2 separate regions of the Homo sapiens genome follow, and region 2 is linked to region 1. The links come from fine-mapping of genetic effects on gene expression. A gene starts in region 1. The other region holds a variant in brackets. All regions are shown on one strand. Distances are between the middles of the regions. Region 1 holds the start of DOP1A (DOP1 leucine zipper like protein A). Region 2 overlaps DOP1A (DOP1 leucine zipper like protein A).

The links.
Region 2: its variant is fine-mapped to the expression of DOP1A in neutrophils (BLUEPRINT, PIP 0.95).

The regions. Positions count from the first base shown.
Region 1 is chr6:83,064,287-83,073,579 of GRCh38, forward strand. It overlaps DOP1A (DOP1 leucine zipper like protein A), which reads left to right and starts at 3,385. Exons shown (of 39, transcript NM_015018.4): 1 at 3,385-3,493. It overlaps UBE3D (ubiquitin protein ligase E3D), which reads right to left and starts at 1,555. Exons shown (of 10, transcript NM_198920.3): 1 at 1,356-1,555. The coding sequence starts at 1,432. RefSeq lists enhancers at 3,194-3,263, 3,294-3,443, 6,909-6,968 and a silencer at 3,614-3,883.
Region 2 is chr6:83,083,099-83,092,391 of GRCh38, forward strand. The region is part of intron 1 of DOP1A (DOP1 leucine zipper like protein A); the gene reads left to right. Among named protein-coding and RNA genes, the nearest start is that of DOP1A, 20 kb to the left of the region's middle. RefSeq lists an enhancer at 3,746-3,895. The variant CT/C (reference allele first, on the strand shown) is at 5,321.

The DNA.
Region 1 (9,293 bases):
GATCTCAGCTCACTGCAACCTCCGCCTCCCGGGTTCACTCCATTCTCCTGCCTCAGCCTCCTGAGTAGCTGGGACTGACTAAAGGTGCGCGCCACCACACCCAGCTAATTTTTGTATTTTTAGTAGAGACAGGGTTTCACCATGTTGGCCAGGATGGTCTTGATCTCTTGACCTCGTGATCCGCCCGCCTCAGCCTCCCAATGTGCTGGGATTACAGGCATGAGCCACCCGGGTACCTTGCCTAAACAAAGGAGAGTAGTCCAAGGGAACTGTGAAAGGCCCCTGCATGAGAGGAAGGGAGGGTTTGTTGTGTGTGTGTGGTTTTTGTTTTATTTTGGTAGGGTTTGGGTTCCTAATTACTCTACAAGGTGCACCAGAATTGGAGATATTTGTCCAAATTCATAAATTTTGAAAGAGAAAAAGAAATACATTCAGAGTACTATTATTCCCATTTCAAGATTGAAGAAATTCAGATTAAATTATTCTAATTTCGTGAGGAAGCTAGCATTTGAACTCAGTTCTCACGCCATATTCCAAATTGCCACACCAGATATCTGGCAGATTTAGGGAAGAGGAAAAAATTAAGCATCAATCTACCTGTGGCACCGTGTAATACCATTCTCAGGATTTTAACTTCTAACTTACTCTCTTTGAAACAGCGATCACAAAGGAATAGACAAGGGGACCACAAATCATTAAAACTGCTGTCAAACAAAATAGAGAACATTTTTCCTAAAAGTTATTTGTGTAGCGAATAACAAGTTTGACGTTCTCACTGGAAGGAAGAATATGAATAAATGAACGAGCTCCAGTAAGAAGTCTACAACCTGTCTTAGTGGTTCACTAAACTCACGTTTATTGAATGATTGTGTGGTTTCTCTGCAAAGAGCAGTTTTGGACGAAAAGACCCGAGGTTATTTACAAAACAAGAAGCTCACATAGGAACTGATCCAGTAAGGAGGATCCCGAAGAGAGACAGACAAATCATTTTTTGCATTGTTTTGTTGGAAACGCCGGGCACTGCCAACAGTGTTTTACATCACTGTTCCTCAAATTTTAATGTGCATTTGATTCCTGGAAATCTTGTTAAAATATAAGTTTTGATTCCATAAGTCTGGTGTGGAGCTGAGACCCTGAATTTCTAAAAAGCTCCCCAAAGATACCCACACTGTCAGTAGGGGTGGGAGTGGCGGAGCCGACTACAGGGGAAAGCTTCACTTTGAGTGATCGAGAGGCTCTACGCAACTGGAAAGAAGAAACTCAAAATCCCTCGTACAGAGAGAGACTCACCAGCCCCCGACCCCCGGGCAGCAGTAAAGCGAGCTGGGCACTGCGCCTAGAATCCCAGTTCTTACCCCAGGATCAGAAGCGCGCTCTGCAGCTGTCCCCGCACCTCCAGAAACACGCGCGTCTCCGCCGCAGAAGCCGCCATGGCAGGCTTCCAGTCCCAGACCGGACCAAGCTGGAGGTTCCGAGGGGCCCGGGTCAACAGGACCAGGAGAGGTTCCACGTGCGGACCAACCAGCGGCAGCCCCGCTGCGGCGCAGGCGCCTGTGCCAGATCGCAGGGCTGGCGCCGCCTACCAGCTCACAGCGCCACCTGCCGGCCGGAGAGTGCACCACCGAGAAGGCGCGTGACCCCGGAGGCCGGGGCGGGGCGCGCATTTTCAAAACCAGGCTTTGGCCCAGAGTGCTGAGAAAGGTGGGCGGCGAGAGGCTAGCTATCGCCCCACTCTGCTTCTTATGAGCGTGACTTGGCGCGTTAGCATCCCTGGAAATGACCATAAAAATCAGACCCAGGGTTCACACCTTTGGCTAGCTCGAAGGGAGGGAGATGATGGAGGCAAGTGTTACAGGTGGGCTTTGTCCCCAGGAGATGCAAGAACAGAATTCCCGGCCCCAAACCCACTTTATCTTGGTCTCTTTATGAACAAGGGTCGTTTGTTAGCCTCTATCTAAAGCGACAAAATTTTCAAGAATTGACTTGCCATTGCTTCTCAACTTAGACAGGATAGCTCCAAAATTGAAACAGGTGCAAAAATATAAGGAAGTTCTTTGTTACCTAATGCAGAAGAGTGTGGCTGAAGTCTATCAGGACTAACCATTTTTTAGGGGGTAAAAAAGGAAGATGAGAATGATTACGTATGTACAGCTCCACTATTCACTTTCACAAAAGTAAAAACTAAGAGAAGTTGGAGAAGTTTACTACCAGAAGATAGTTTTGAAAAGTTTGACACAGTAAAGAACCTGGTATAATGTAAATACTTATAATGAAGAACTATTAAAATATAAGACCGGGTAGAATTACAATAGGGCTTCTTAAAAACAAGGAGCTGCTTTTATTTATTTATTTTTTTTCGGAGTCTCGCTCTGTCGCCAAGGCTGGAGTGCAGTGGCGCGATCTCGGCTCACTGCAACCTCTGCCTCCTGGGTTCAAGCGATTCTCCTGCTTCAGCCTCCCGAGTAGCTGGGATTACAGGCGCACGCGCCACCATGCCCGGCTAATTTTTCTGTTTTTGGTAGATCCGCCCACCTTGGCCTCCCAAAGTGCTGAGATTACAGGTGTGAGCCACCATGCCCAGCCTAAACCATAAATAAATTCTAAATAAATAAATCCTGTCATATATTTTAAGATAATAGCTTGACAATTTTTCTAAAATCAGTATTTGGGGTGATTAAAGTTTATTATGTTGATGCACAAATTATTATATCTATCACAATAATTTGAAGTTATAGATGGAAGCAACAACTCACTTAAAAAAATAAAGTTTACTATTATTTGGTCTCAAATAATTCATCTATTTGAAGGATGATGATTTCAACTCTTCATATCTTCCACCTTTAGTACCCGAGGCTATTGAATGCTTAAATATTGACACATTATATTGAAATATACAACTTCCGTAGCACAACTTACTCTTTATAATTGTTTTGTTAGCTTAAAAGATTTTTATATATTTAGTTACGTATTTGTAAAAACTTTCATTTTTTTACGGTATGGTGTTGGCAAAACGGTGCAATTTACCTTGGAGTAACTAGATATGATTGATAGAGCTCTAGACTCAAAATAGTTCCAAATCTGACACCAACTACTTGTCTCCTAACTTCACAAGTCTCCTAACCTCTCTGGGATGCAGGTTACTCATATGAAATATTGAGAAACTATTCAAATAATATTTAAAAGCTGTTTTCAGTTCCTATTATCTCTTCAAATGAAAACATCTGCTAACCCCCTTTCTAGCCACTCCTGAAATTGGTAGCCATGGCCGCTTCCCGCGACAGTCCACTTGAGGGCGCTGTGGCAACAGCTAGCGCCGGGAGGCAGGAAGCCGATCGGGGGCGGGGATCGAAGGCCTCAGACGTCGACGCCGGCGTGGGCGCGAGCACGGTGCACTCTGGGAGCTGTCACTAGGCCCTTCGGCTCCCGGTCTCGGTGTAGCTGCCGTGGTTGCCAGGAGAGCTGCGCCGGCGAGAAGCGGCCGAGCCAGCAGCAGGTAAAAGCGTCCCTGCCCCCAGTGCGGCCGCTAGGCTGGTAGCCGGCTCCGAGCATCCTTCTCGGCCCGGCTAGGTCCTGAGCCGCGGGGACGCCTTGCGAGTCTGACTGCTGTGGCGTCGGGGGTGTTGCCGCTCCGGCCCCGCCAGGAGCTGCGAAGCTGGTCGGCCGCCCTCTGGTTTACGGGGAGTCGGGAGCTGCGCGGGGACTGGAGGGCCAGGGCTGGGGCCGGGGCCTGGGCCGGGCAGAGGCGCGAGGGCGGCCCCAGGTGAGGGAGGCCGGAGGCGGGGCCGGGGAGCCGGGGACAGGTCCCGAGCCTCCCCTGCTGGGGCGGAGCGGTGCGCAAGGCTGGGGCAGAGGTCGCACCTGTGCGATGGAGGCGTGCGGAGTACCCTCTTTGTTGAAGGAATCGAGGCGTTGTGCCTTCTCGGCTGGTGGGTTCTTTTAGCATTGAGGAGACACGTAGGCCCGCGATGGTTCATGTTCTCCGTGGGGCTTAGAAAGGAGTACCGAAGTTTATTAAGAGGAAGTCAGAAGAGTCAAACGGGTGTTGTTAACAATTATCACCTTTGATTCCTAAGCCTTTTAAAGTTGCAACATAACAATAGTCACTTGTTCGGGCCTCCTCCATTCCTGTACCCTGAGGGGGGCGGGGAATGGCACACAACTATTTTTCTTAAGCTAAGTAAATTGTGTTTGAACATTTTTACACTATCTTAGAGTTCTATGGCGTTTGAGAAATGTAAAGATTGGGAAAATGACTTCGACTCCAGCTAAAGCAGTCAAAAAAAATGATAATTACCAAAAATGTAGGAAACTGTTTGCCTGACAAATAGGCCCTGAACTGTAGAGAGAGAAAAATCTGTTTTGATGTTGTTGGCCATTGTCTATGCAGACATAAGTTCTCACATTTTAATTTTGTTTGTGGGTATTAATATGGTCTACAGTGAATAACATACGTCGGCATTATGTGCTAAGTAACTCACCACCTGATAGATAACACAGTGATTTAGGTGGGCCGACTGAAGTTATGAGTAAATTAAAACCACGAGTAGTCTAAATGCTTTATTTTAGTGATTACTTTCGGCCACAACTGATAACTAAATCATTCTCTGTAATTGTTAAGCAGTAGCAAATCTCCACGTGGGCTTGATTATTAGGTACCTAGTGCTGAAGGAACTAAAAACACCTGATTTAATACACAAACCAGAAAATGTGACACCATAACCCAAATCTTAAATGTAAGGTAAGTGTTGTCAGTTAAATGTTTGTATACATTCAAAGAAGTCCTATTTTGTAGTTAAAGTAAAGGAGTGAGCTCTGGCCTGGGAATGAAGAGATTAGATTCAAGTGCTTTAATCTGCTACTAACCAGGTGTGATCTCCAGGCTTCGGTTTTGTCATTGTTTAAGGAAATTTGAAAAGACCAGGGTTTTCCAAACTGATGTTTCCCCCAGAACAGTGTTCTAAAACCATTTAATAGGCTTACTTTCCCCAAAGCAGTGTTCAATGGCAAATAATTTGGGAGCACACTAGGTTAAACTAGGTTTAACTTTTTTGCTTATAAAGGCAGGACTCTTCAAAACCTTTACTGTTATGCTGATACATGTAAATCTCCAGAAGGTTATCCTAGCATTCCCAAATTTACCTGATCTATTTTCTCATGGCCAAATGGTTAACAACTCTTAGAATATAATTACATAGAATATAAATTTAAAAACTGCTGTACTTAAGCTGAGTCCTCTTCAACTGTAAAGGTCCATGCATTAGGCTTATTTTTTGGCTGTCATTTTAAACTTTTTGGAGCATGAAGATCTAGTGGCAACTCACTTGTATAAAAAAAATTATATTTTTCTTAGTAAAATATTAATGATACACTTAAGTTCCCATGAGTCTTAATGCTTTAATTATTGGCAGAAGACTTATCTTATTCTTTCTGGTTTTTTGACTTTTTTAAAACCATAATTCATGTTTTGAATTTGATGGTGGAGTGTAGTTATTGATTTTATTCAAAATGGCATTTTGAGGTTCCAACAAGTGAAGACTTGTTGATAATGGCATCACTTTTGCTGTGATGATTTCTCCTTATAGTCATGCATTCCTAAAATGAAATTATGGTAGAAGCCACCCAAAATGTGCTTACTGTGTAATAACTACCTATTTTAAGAGCTTATATCATGGAAAAGAGCTAAAGGCTAAAACACAAATTTTGAGACAGTTACTTCTAAATTGCTTTACAAACAGGATGTGTGCTGAACACAATCTTAAACTGTTTTGCTAAAGTCTGTTAAGTGTCACTAGTACACCACCAGTGTGGATATTCTGTTCATTCTTTATTACTTTCTTAGGGTGAATGCTGTTAATGCACAATTTTGCTTGCAGATAGGAGAGGTGGGAAGAGAACATGTAATTTTAATAGATAAGCGTTAATTCAGGTAAATTATCTCCCTGGAATAAAACTATTAAGTAGAAATATAAAGCTAATATTTTTTGTGTAATAGTTAACAGTTTTTATTGAGAATTGTATGAAAATATGATACCCTTGTCTTTAACTGGCGGTTTCCCTTTTTCCTTTATTGTATTTACTTCCTCCTCTCCAAGCTATCCAAGCCTGAAATCTCAATGACCTTTCATTGCATTGGTCAATTATATAGTATCAAATTTATTAAGGAAAAATTTATATATACTGATGTACATTCATTTAAGTGTACATTTCAATAAGTTTTAGTAGATATATATGCACCCGTGTAGCTACCACCACAATCAAGATTTGGAAGATGCCACCACTCAGGCACATATAGTTATACTTTTACTCTCTGAGAATGTTCTTCTGTTTCTGAGTGTCTAAATTATACCTTTAAGACCTAGCTCAAATGCCACCCTGTGAACCTTTTTTTGATTACCTCATTTTGAATTAATTTCCTCCTCTTCTGACTTTCCTTTTCACATTTTTTTTTTTCATCATTCTTCTCTGTTCTTTGTGGTGGCTAACCCAGTGGCAAACATATAGCAGGCACTTATTTGTTGACCAAATGGATTAATGTAATATTTCCTCAACTTCAGTCTTTGTGATATCATCTTCAAAATTTTGGCCATATCTTCCTGTTTGGCATACTTCCTGTTTAGTTATTAATATTTCTTTATATCAATGTGATTATTAAAGTAATATTTTAAAGGAAACTTGGAATAACTTTGAGTAAAAAGCAGGTGGCACTTGCCATAAACAGAAGGTGGACGTATACGTAAAAATAATGAAAATCAAAGTCCCCTTAATTTCTAACTAGAAACTATTGCCTGCAGGAGGCTCTAAGCCTAAAACTTGCCCTTTGTTTAAAAGTGAGATTGGCAAGAATTTCAGTGGTGTTAACATCTTGGCACCAAACTGAGACTTTCTTCTTGATACAGTCAGAGGAACTGAAAGAGAATGAAGAGGAAGTAACCTTTTTTTTTTTGAAATGGAGTCTCACTCTGTCATCCAGGCTGGAGTGCAGTGGAGTGAGCTCACTGCAACCTCTGCCTCCCGGATTCAAGGTATTCTCCTGCCTCAGCCTCCTGATTAGCTGGTATTACAGGCACCCACCATCACACCGGGCTAACTTTTGTATTTTTAGCAGAGACAGGGTTTCGCCATGTTGGTCACGCTGGTCTCAAACTCCTGACCTCAGGTTATCCGCCTCGCCTCTGCCTCTCAAAATGCTGGGATTACAGACATGAGCCACTGTGTCCGGCCCCTCCTCATTTAATTCAGTGTCACTTAGCTCTGCCCTCGGATCTTATAAAATCATCCCACGTCTCCATTTGGTGGCCCAAATTTTTGTAGATACTAAGTTAATCAGTGCTTGAAAATTCCTTAGAATTTTATCTGTGCAATAATTGAGAAACAAAGCCTTAATTGTAAATTAAAAAGTGTACTACAATTACCTTAAAAAATATAGTAAAAAAAGTTACTTTAAAAAATAGTACAAAGATAATATTCTTGAATCAGATATGTCTTTATTTTTTCAAAAATGTTCTGAATGTTACTGATGTTACATCCTACTAGGGTACATTAGCCTTAAGATAAACATTTGAATCTAAAATCTAAATCAGAAAACAAGTGGGAACCTGTTATATGACAAAGTGATGACTGTTGATTCAGGAGTGATGAAATGTTAATATAATGTTTATCTGGCAAAGCTCCTGTATGAGTAGATGAGGTAATAAAGTTAAAATAATCTCCTATCTCCTTTAGTTTTTTCTCTCATCACTTAAGTTTTATATAGCTATATTTTTATATTTTAATCCTGCCGAAGACATTTCTAGACTTTTTCCTCCTGAGATGACACCTTCTACTCTCCTGTGGAAGGAGTTTCGTATGAACATACTGGAAAATAAATTCCCTGCTCTTATTTTGTAAAATACATTTTGTATTTAAAGTTGCTGGAGTTACTTATAGGCATATATCCATATTATGAGCCTAACATTTGCTGTTATTTCGTGTTCATGAACAAAGAGCTTGAGTAAATAGACCCTTTCATTTGGTGTTAACGGTTTCCAAAAAAAAAAAATTAACCTGAGTGGTGATAAGTTTATCAGTACACACAATCATTTGCTACTCACCAAGAGGTCAGATTCCTGGGTTTTGTTTTTGTTTTTGAGACGGGGCTCTGTAGTCCAGGGTGGAGTGAGATTCCTGTTAATATAAGGTTCTGGGATACAACCTAAAAAATTGGAAGTAAGTAAAGAGCCATCTTGGATGCATAGCATTTATTTCACAAACAAGTGGTTTCTTTCCTGCTTCTCACTGTAAAATAAGGGAGCAGTACAGAAGCAATATAGGTAAATTGTCATCATTTAGAAGTGACAGCTGACTATAATCAGAAAATCATAAAAATACTGCAATCTTAGTCCTTTGAATTATACAGGTAAATAGCCCTACATTTTTCAGTTGCTTTTGATTGTGCTATTATATTATGAAAAGGTACTATAAAGTATCAGCTACCTGAAACCTTTAGAATATGTGTTATTTTTATCGAATATTCTACATAGCTAGAATTTTTTTATATACCCCAAATGCCATCGCAGAGCACTGATTATGCTTTTTGCTTCTGTTCAGAATGATGCAGCTGGCACAGTGGCTTTTCCATACATGCTTAACAGTTTAAAAATTTCCTGGAGAGGTTTTTCTCCTGCTGGCCTGTGAAAAAATAGAACATAGTACAGTACTTGCTTTAAAGTTAGTCTCTGACATTTTGGAAGAAATAAGTGTTTGAATGACTTCCATATTATATACAGCATTACCACCAAGTAGCAGTTCACTTTTTTTTCCTTTTTCTTTTTTTTTGAGACAGACTCTCACTCTTTTGCCCAGGCTGGAGTGCAGTGGCATGATCTCGGCTCACTGCAACCTCTACCTCCTGGGTTCGAGCGATTCTCCTGCATCAGCCTTCCAGGTAGCTGGGACTACGGGCATGTGCCACCATGCCCAGCTAATTTTTATTGTATTTTTTAAATAGATACAGGGTTTCACCATGTTGGCCAGGCTGGTCTCTATCTCCTGACCTCAGGTGATCTGCCCGCCTTGGCCTCCCAAAGTGCTGGGATTACAGGTGTGAGCCACCACACCTGGCCAGCAGTTCACTTTTGAGCCTGAATGAGGGGTTCCAGAAACAAAATATGGCCTCTGACATTTTTTGGAAGGCTGTCCTCAAAGCACTGTTCCCCAAACCTACCTGATTCCATAACTTGAGGCTGCCAATTTTACGTAATCTGATAACTTTCATTATGTTTTAAGTTTCAGAGATTGTGGTTGAAAAAATGAAA
Region 2 (9,293 bases), 19 kb after region 1:
TGCCTGGCCAAAAACCCACTCTTTTATAGATAACAACCAAAAATAAAAACTTCTGTATCAGAATCATGATCATTTTTGCCTTATATTTTAAACACTATCAGTATTGAGTGGTGAACCACTTGGGGTATTTTGAGTTGAGCTTTGGTCCCTGTGCTTCATTCAAGGTCTAGGAAGAATAACATATGTATTTACATTATTATAGTTTTTTTTTAAGTACAATTTCTAAGAAAGAAATCTATATAGCCGGAAAAGTTTTTTGAAAAAAGTTAATGAGAGAGGAGAGGTAGAATATGTCATGCAGGAGAATTAAGACTTGTGGTTTAAAAAAAAAAAAAAAAGTTCAGAAAGATACTGATTAAGGGCCAATTCCAGGAGTCAGTCTGCCAGAGTTCTTCCTGGTTCTTCCTTTTATTCTCTGTGGCACCTTGAACACTAATTGCCTTATATGAACATGGATTCATGTGTATATCTACCTCATGGATGTATTGTGAAGATACATGAGATAATTCACATGAAAGGGCTTAGTATAGTGCCTGGCACAGAGTAATTTGTAAGTCAGTATCAACTGTGATTATTATCATCATCTTGAGTAATACGTGGACAATGTTTATTTGGCTACTATGCTTTGGAGACAGGATGATCCTTTGTAACTCAAGGGTATGTGCTTAAGTGTTTATTATTATGGCTGTTTGCCATTTGAAGCTTAAAGTAGAATCCCACCTACCTGCTAATGGCTCATTCCAAGTTATAAATGGTGCTTATGTTTTGTATTTTCTAAAATTAATATTTTCATATTGCTATGTGTACCAGAAATCACAGAATTTGAAATGAGAAAGAATCTGATTTTATAGCATTCAGAGACAATTTTTAATAACGTATATAATTTTGTGTATATTTACTTGGTAAAAAAAGAAATCGTAAAGTTAAATCAGCTTCACTGTCACCTTGGCAGATCTATGGGCTTTTAAACCTCTTGTGTCTTAGGTTTTTATTCGTATAGCTTTTCTGAGACCTAAAGTGAAAATATAAATAGTCATATGCTGTATAACATTTCAATGATGGCCCACCTATGTAACAGTGGTCCCGTAAGGTTTTAATACTGTATTTTACTGTACTTTTCTATTTTTAGGTACACAAATACTTACTGTTGTGTTACAGTTACCTACAGTATTCAATATATAACATGCTGTACAGGTTTGCAGCCTAGGAGCAATAGGTTATACCATATAGCCAGGATGTGTAGTAGGGTTTACCATTATGTCTGTTTAAGCATGTTCTATGAATGTTCACACAATAACTAAATCACCCAACAACACATCTCAGAACATATTCCCATCAAGCAATGCATGACTATAAATAAGTACATAAAGTATAATAAAACTTTTTCCAAATTTTTCTCCAGCTTGAGATTTGCAGCTAATTAATTTGAAAAGATTTGACTTCGACGTCTGGGAGTATCATACCTAAGTAGTTTGTTTTTTTTGTTTTGTTTTGTTTTTTTTGAGACAGAGTCTTGCTTTGTAGCCCAGGCTGGAGTACAGTGGCACCATTTTGGCTCACTGCAGCCTCTACCTCCTGGGTTCAAGCGATTCTTGTGCCTCAGCCACCCAAGAGGCTGGGATTACAGGCACGCACCACCACACCTGGCTAATTTTTGTATTTTTTTTTTTTTTTAGTAGAGATGGTTTCACCATGTTGGCCAGGCTGGTCTCGAACTCCTGGCCTCAAGTGATCTGCCTGCCTTGGCCTCCCAAAGTGCTGGGATTACAAGCATGAGCCACTGCACCCAGCCTAAATAGGATTTTTTAAATCTCCTTTCACAGGGCTGGAATGACTTCCTTCACATTTAGATAGTTATGTTTAATACAGATTAAACTGAGCCAGTTTTTTAAAAGTGTAACTGGAATGTACACATTTTTATAAATGTTCTTAGGCAATCTGTTTTTTAAAGCACTTAATAGCCATGTGAATGTATTCTGTATTTGAGGAGAGTAAGGTCAAGTGTGACTATACTAGTTAAGAAATAGAACTGTAGTTCTGCTTTTTATTTTTCTTCTACAAAGCTTTTCTCAGAAAAAACAAACGAAAATGGTTTAACTATATTGTCGTTGATAGATTAGTTCATTTATTCAGATTATATTTGAGGCCCTACTGTTTATCAGCCACTATTATGGGACTGCCGATGCAGGTATGAACAACTAAGATAAGGCTATTGACTTCATAGTATTTGCATCCCATTGAGAGATGATAGACAGGAAACAAGCAAATAAATAGGAAAATTTCAAAGTGTAACAAATGCTAATAAGGAAATAATGTGATGTTATAGGGTATGTGGTAAGAGTTTGGCCCCAGGCAGGCTACTTAGACTGATCAGAAAGAACTTTTGGTAGGGTTTGATATTACTGGAGGACGGGAAGAAATCTGTCACATAGAGTTGACCAAAGAGATTTTAAATGTAGAGAATAGCAAGAACAAAATGCCTAGAATGCAAAAAAAATTGGTGTATTTGAGTTTGGATATTATTCTAAGCTTTGTATTGGAATATTTGTATTTAGGGTATAGCTAAGATGTTGCTGTTTCTGCTGTATCAGAAGAGGTCTTATCCTTAGAGAATAATTAAGACTAGAAGGTGACCAGGACAAGCTTTGAGGAAAACCATTGATGGGTTTTTTGCGGTATTTTATGTTATGTTATGTTATGTTATGTTATGTTATGTTATGTTATGTTATGTTATGTTATTTTGAGACAGAGTCTCGCTCTATCGCCATTGACAGGTTTTAGGCAAAGGAATGACATAATGTGTCTCTGGCTTCTCTGTGGAGGATGAATTATGCAGACTCTCAAGAATAGAAGCAGGAATCAGTGGTGTGCTGGAGTGGGCTATAACTGGTTAGAATAATAGAAGAGGAAAAGTGGCAGGTATAGATTTAGGACACATCAGTTAACAGATGCTATTGGAGCTATAGGACTATAGGAGATAACCTAAAGGGAAAGAAGAGAGGAGGGTTCCTGATTGAACCTTGAAGTAAGGCTGACCCATGAATCGAAAATCCACGTATAATTTTTGACTCCCCAAAAACTTTACTAATAGCCTACTATAGACTGGAAGCCTTACTGGTAACATAAATGGTTGATTAACACATTTGTAGGTTATATGTATAATATGCTGTATTCTTATAATGAAATAAGCTAGAGAAAAGAAAATAGTAAGAAAACCATAAGAGAAAATATATGTACTGTTCATTAAGTGGAAGTGGATCATCACAAAGATCTTCATGAACCTCATTGTCTTCACTGTGAGTGGGCAGAGGAAGAGGAGGAGAAAGAAGAGAGGTTGGTCTTGCTGTCTTGGGTAGGTAGTAGAAGTGGAAGAAAATCCACGAAGAAACGGACCCATGCAACTCAAATTGCATGTTTTTCAAGACTCAGCTGTACCTCAGCATTTAAAATTGAATAGAAAAGAGAAGCCAACATAAACTGAAAAAAAGAGGCTAAGAGATAACAAACCTTGAGAGGGAAGAGTCCCGGAAGCCAAAAACAAGGTATTGAATACTGCTGAGTTGAATAAAATGAGGGGCTACAGAAGTGACCTTTGGCTTTGGTTAAAGCACATTATGGGTGATTTTTATACGGGTTTTTTTCCTGGAGGGACAGTCCCATAGGCATTTCACGGAGTCTGAAGAGTGAATAAAAGATAAGGAAAAAATAGCAAATATAGAGAAATCTTTCAGGTTTTGCTATGAGAGAATAAAGAAATGGGTTGGCAGCCAGAGAGCCTGTGGGGGTCAAGGAAAGGCTATGGGTTTTAATTTTAGTTTTAGTTTTAGTTTTAGTTTTAGACCATGAGAGATTCGGGGGGTAGACTTTAGGCTGTAGACAGGAAAAGAAACTGATAGTATTGAAGGAGCCTGAGCTAATAGTCCTTGGGAAGGCAAGAGGAGACCAGATTCAGAACACAGCAAGAGGGAGGCCTTTACTGGGAGGAAGGTCCTTTGTCCTTCATAATGGAAAGAAAAGTAGAGAATATGGGTATAGGTGAAGATAGGTTACAGATTTGTTGGAGGGAAGGTAAGAATATTCTTTTTGCTTCCATTTTCTTAAGTTTGAAACTAGATCTTTAGCAATGATGGAGGGAAGACAGTATTAGGATTTTGAGAAGAGAAGGTATGAAATAGTTGTGTCAAGAACTTAAATTTACTAAGGAAACAGTGGGTTAGGATAGTGTTGAGTACCTGTTTGAAGTTTGTGCTTCTCAATTTAAGTCAACCTGATTGTATGATTTTTTTCTCCAATGTTTAGTTGCTCATTTTCAGGCTGAAAACAAAAAAAAACATGTAGTTGAGTTTAACCAGGATTGGAGTTTTGTCAGATGAGTATAAAGAGGAAGATTCCACACTCTTTACCCCAAGGTAGGATGGGTATGAGAAGGAAAACAGCCTCCGTGAAAGTGAAGAGTAATGACTAGGAGTTAGGACTCTAAAGCCAAATTGCTTGTGTTTAAATCCCTACCTCTCCCATTTACTAGCTGTATTGCATATCATTTCTATCCTTCAGTTTCCTTACTTGTAAATGTGAGTAATAGTGCCTACTGCAAAGGATCAACTGGGATTAAATTAATTAAAATACACGAAGCACTTGAATAGTTCCTGGTATTTAGTAAGTACACTGTAAGGTTAGAAGAGGTCTTGTCCTCAGAGAATAATTAAGACTAGAAGGCGACAGGACAAGCTTTGGGGAAAACCATTGATGTTTGTTTTTTTGTTTGTTTGTTTGTTTGTTTTGGTTTTTTTTGAGATGAAGTCTTGCTTTGTTGCCCGGGCTGGAGTGCAGTGGCGCGATCTCAGCTCACTGCAAGCTCCGCCTCCCAGGTTCATGCCATTCTCCTGCCTCAGCCTCCCGAGTAGTTGGGACTACAGGCGCCTGCCGCCATGCCCGGCTAACCTTTTGTATTTTTTTAGTAGAGACGGGTTTCACCGTGTTAGCCAGGATGGTCTCGATATCCTGACCTCATGATCTACCCCTCTCGGTCTCCCAAAGTGTTGGGATTACAGGTGTGAGCCACCGCACCCGGCCAACCATTGATGGGTTTTAAGCAAAGGAATGGCATAATTAAGACTAGAAGGTGACAGGACATGCAGAGGAAAGGCTGATGATCTGTTGAGCACATATCTGAAGTTTCCTAGAGTGTATACCATTTGAAAGTTTGAGACAACAGTAAGGGCATGGGAGATTGGATCAGATTAGGGAAGTACAGAGCATCAGGTTTATAATGAGTGACAATAACCTATTTGTAAAATACCTAGTAAGTGTTGTCTTCCAT[CT/C]TTTTTTTTTTTTTTTTTTTTTGAGATGGAGTCTCACTCTGTCCCCAGGCTGGAGTGCAGTGGCGCGATCTCAGCTCACTGCAACCTCCAACTCTGAGGTTCAAGCGATTCTCCTGCATCACCCTCCCCAGTAGCTGGGATTACAGGCATGCACCACCACACCCAGCTAATTTTTGTGTTTCTAGTAGAGACGGGTTTCACCATGTTGGCCAGGATGGCCTTGATCTCCTGACCTCGTGATCTGCCCGCCTCAACCTCCCAAAATGCTGGGATTACAGGTGTGAGCCACCATGCCCGGCCTTCATCCATATTTTTAACACTCAAGGGAAGTTTCCAGCTTTCAGGAGTGACTGGCTTTATGAATTGACTAAATAAATGATTCCTGAAGATTATTTAGTGACAGTGCCAACATTGGAACCTAGAACTGTTGACCAAAATGAAATAGATTATTAATGGTTACATCTGTTAGATGGTAACAATTACTGAATGGTAATTTTTCATTAGTTAGAAAAGTTTGGAAAGAGCATCTACTTATATAGCTTTTTTTCCGATGTTCTCTTTCAAAAACAACAGCAGGGTTTTTTGCCCCATTGCATGGTGCTTACAATAATTCATTAATTTATATTCTTGGGATGTGCTAGAAACACTTAGTCCCCAGATACATCTTTGGAATTGAGTAATAATGAATCTTTTCTCTTTTCAGCCCTCCCCCTGCCTTTTGTGGCAAAGGAAGGAGAGAAAGAGAAAATGCAGCTAGTGATAAGCAAACTAGCCAAAGTATCTTTGTGTTGTTATTCTGAAGTGAGGTCTACTCACTTTTTATCACCATTTAAACAGAACTTTTAAAAATTGAGATGGTATGATACAATATTTCATTTCTTATTTAAATTTTAGCTTTTTATGCTATAAAGTGTAAAAACAAATCTGTACTACCTACTAATTTTTTCATAGGGCATAACTTGCCCAGAGAAATCTACAGCTTTTATCTTTTTTCATAAACAGCTTTTTTGCTTTATTTTTATAATTGATATATGTTATATTTGTGAGACAAAACATGACACTAAATTATGTTTCATGACAATTCAGGTCCAATTTATCTGAGTTGTAACTTTGAAAGTATTGCAACTAAATTGTCCAGTGGACTAAAGATCAAGTCAGAGAAACTACGATTAACAGCCCCTAGAAGAAAGATTACAAATGCAACTTTGATTTACTTGCATCACTTTAAACAAGCTAGAATTTTTATTTTTATTTTTTTAAGTTTCCTGGTTATATTAAATAAATAGTTTGTTATTGTATCTCCTGGAAAGTTGCAGGTTATTGAGAGGAGGGAGTTAATTTCAAACAAAACAGCTCATTTGACAGAGATGATGTAAATGTTTGATATAACGTTTAAGATGATGGAAATGTTCTGTATCTTAACTGTAGTGAAGAATCTTGATTGTGGTGATGGTTTTATGGGTGCACGCACTAGTCAGAACTCATCAAATATGTGTATTAAATATATACAGTTTAACAAAGCCATAAAACATGTTTGGCAATAATACTACATTTTAACTAATATTCACAAGACAATTCAAGATAGGTTAGTGAGTCCTCAGTTTTCCAGTTTGCTGCCAAGAAATTCAGAGCCACATCTGATGCTTAATTATAACTTACTACCCCTCTTAATTAACATACTTGCTTCCCAGTGTTGTTTTGATTTCGTAGGAAATAATGACGACAACTGTTTCTTGAGCATTTTCTATGTGCTGAGCACTCTGATAACTTTAGTATGTTACTTATTTAATTTTGACAGCCATTCAAGTATAAGTGTTTTCATCTCATTTAATGGATAAGGAAAACTGGTTTGACAAAATTAAGCATGTTGCCCAAGGTCATACAGCTGCTAAGTAAGTATTAGAGCTAGGATTTAGATTTAGGTCATCTTGACTTTAACCCCTGTTCTTGGAGGCCCTACCGTCTACTGCCTGTCTTTTCATCGCCTGGGGTTTCTGTGAAACACTACTCTGTTATTAAGTATGTCTATTTATTTTGTGTTTATTCTGGAGAAGAGGCATGGTATAAAGTTTGATACACTATGGGGATACGTTATATTTGCATTATGATCTAAGTCAGTGGTGTTTAAAGTGTGTTATTCACAAACTTTGTTAAGAGACATGGTGAAATAAGCACAGAGATAAAAGTAAACATTTAGAAACTTTTATAGCAATTTAATATTACTGCAACAACTAAAGCACATGATTTTATATTTTAGAAAAGTATTGGTCAGTGATGGATTTGGTGGAAATACTGATCTTTCACTACAGATAGTTTGAGAAGTATTGACCTAAGCCATTATAAAACAAAATATGGGGGAAAATGACTGAGAACTGCAATTTGTATGTATATATTGGATGAAAGGCTTAAAATGGTGTATCTTTACACTTCTTTTCTGATATATAATGACAATTTTATTTGCATTAAAGTCATTGTGGAATTACAACTAAATTTTTAGTCCTAGGATTTGACTATTGTATTAGTTTTCATGCTGCTGATAAAGACATACCTGAGACTGGGCAGTTTACAGAAGAAAGAAGTTTAATCGGACTTACAGTTCCATATGGCTGGGGAAGCCTCACAATCATGGGGAAGGCAAGGAGGAGCAAGTCACATCTTAATGGATGGCAGCAGGCAAAGGAAAAAAATTAAAAAAAAAAAAAAGCTTGTACAGGAAAACTCTCCCTTATAATACCATCAGATCTCACCCACCACCATGAGGATACCATGGGAAAGACCTGCCCCCATGATCCAGTTACCTCCCACCAGGTCCCTCCCACAGCACATGGGAATTCAAGATGAGATTTGGGTGGGGACACAGCCAAACCATATCAACCATCTTTTCACATGAAAAGTAATACTGCAGCTCTGCTGATGAAACTTCTGCAAAATGTCTCTTCTCATTTTTCAGCAATTTAAGATTTTGCTTTTAATATTTTGTTTTATATGTTTGATATAAACATATATCAAACAAACAAGCTATATGAAGTCTTTTTAATCATATTTAAATATTTAGGAATTTATTGCCTAAAAAAAAGTAAGAAAGTTCAAATTAATTACCTGACCAAACTTTTTAGCTGTAGATGCATACAAGAGTTATAAGCCTTACAGACATAGCTGGTCATTATTAATTGACTTTTTTATAGCAAATAAGATTATCTGAAGGATGTGTATGTTGAGATAATATTGCTTAAAAATTATTAGGCTGATAAATGACCCCTATTTTCATTAATAGAAATTACTACTAAATTGCTTGGCAGGTTAATCTTCCTCATGCACTGAATATTATATGTCTTCAAAATGAATGCTATTTTATATCTTATTCTGGAAATCTTGCTAAGGAAGGAAAAAAAATGTTCCTGCTGATAAAATTTATGCGTGTGTTTTACTCTGTCTACCACATTCTTAAATTCATTGATTGGATTTTAGTTATTTTATACGAATTTTATGTGCTTTCAGAAAATCCAGTCAAGTTGATATTTTCCCTGAGTTTAATTTGGTTTTGCTATCCTTCTGATTTCTGAGAAACAGAACTAGAAATGTTTTAGGTTGTGTTCACTCTAACCTTCATTCCATATATGTCACTGTTGGTATTTAACTGTTTTATTAGCTATCAGAGTTTATGGCCTTACTTGTTTTAGTGTGCTAGTCTTTTGTATCTGACATACATACAGGTATTGCTTTGTGTGTATGCTGTGTGTGTGTGTTTATGGTTAAATCTAGTATTTAAAAGTTTTAGAAACCATGGATTGATAATGAAATAGCTTGTATCATTTTTAATTTATTACCAGTCTTTATTATGTTTAAACACTTTGATCATGAGTCCAACTGTAGCCTCACTATTGTAAGTTATGTGTTGTCCAGCATAGAGACATGTATAAAACATAGTTCCTGCTCTCAAAGAACTTTCCTGGTAGGAAAATTGCATAGCAA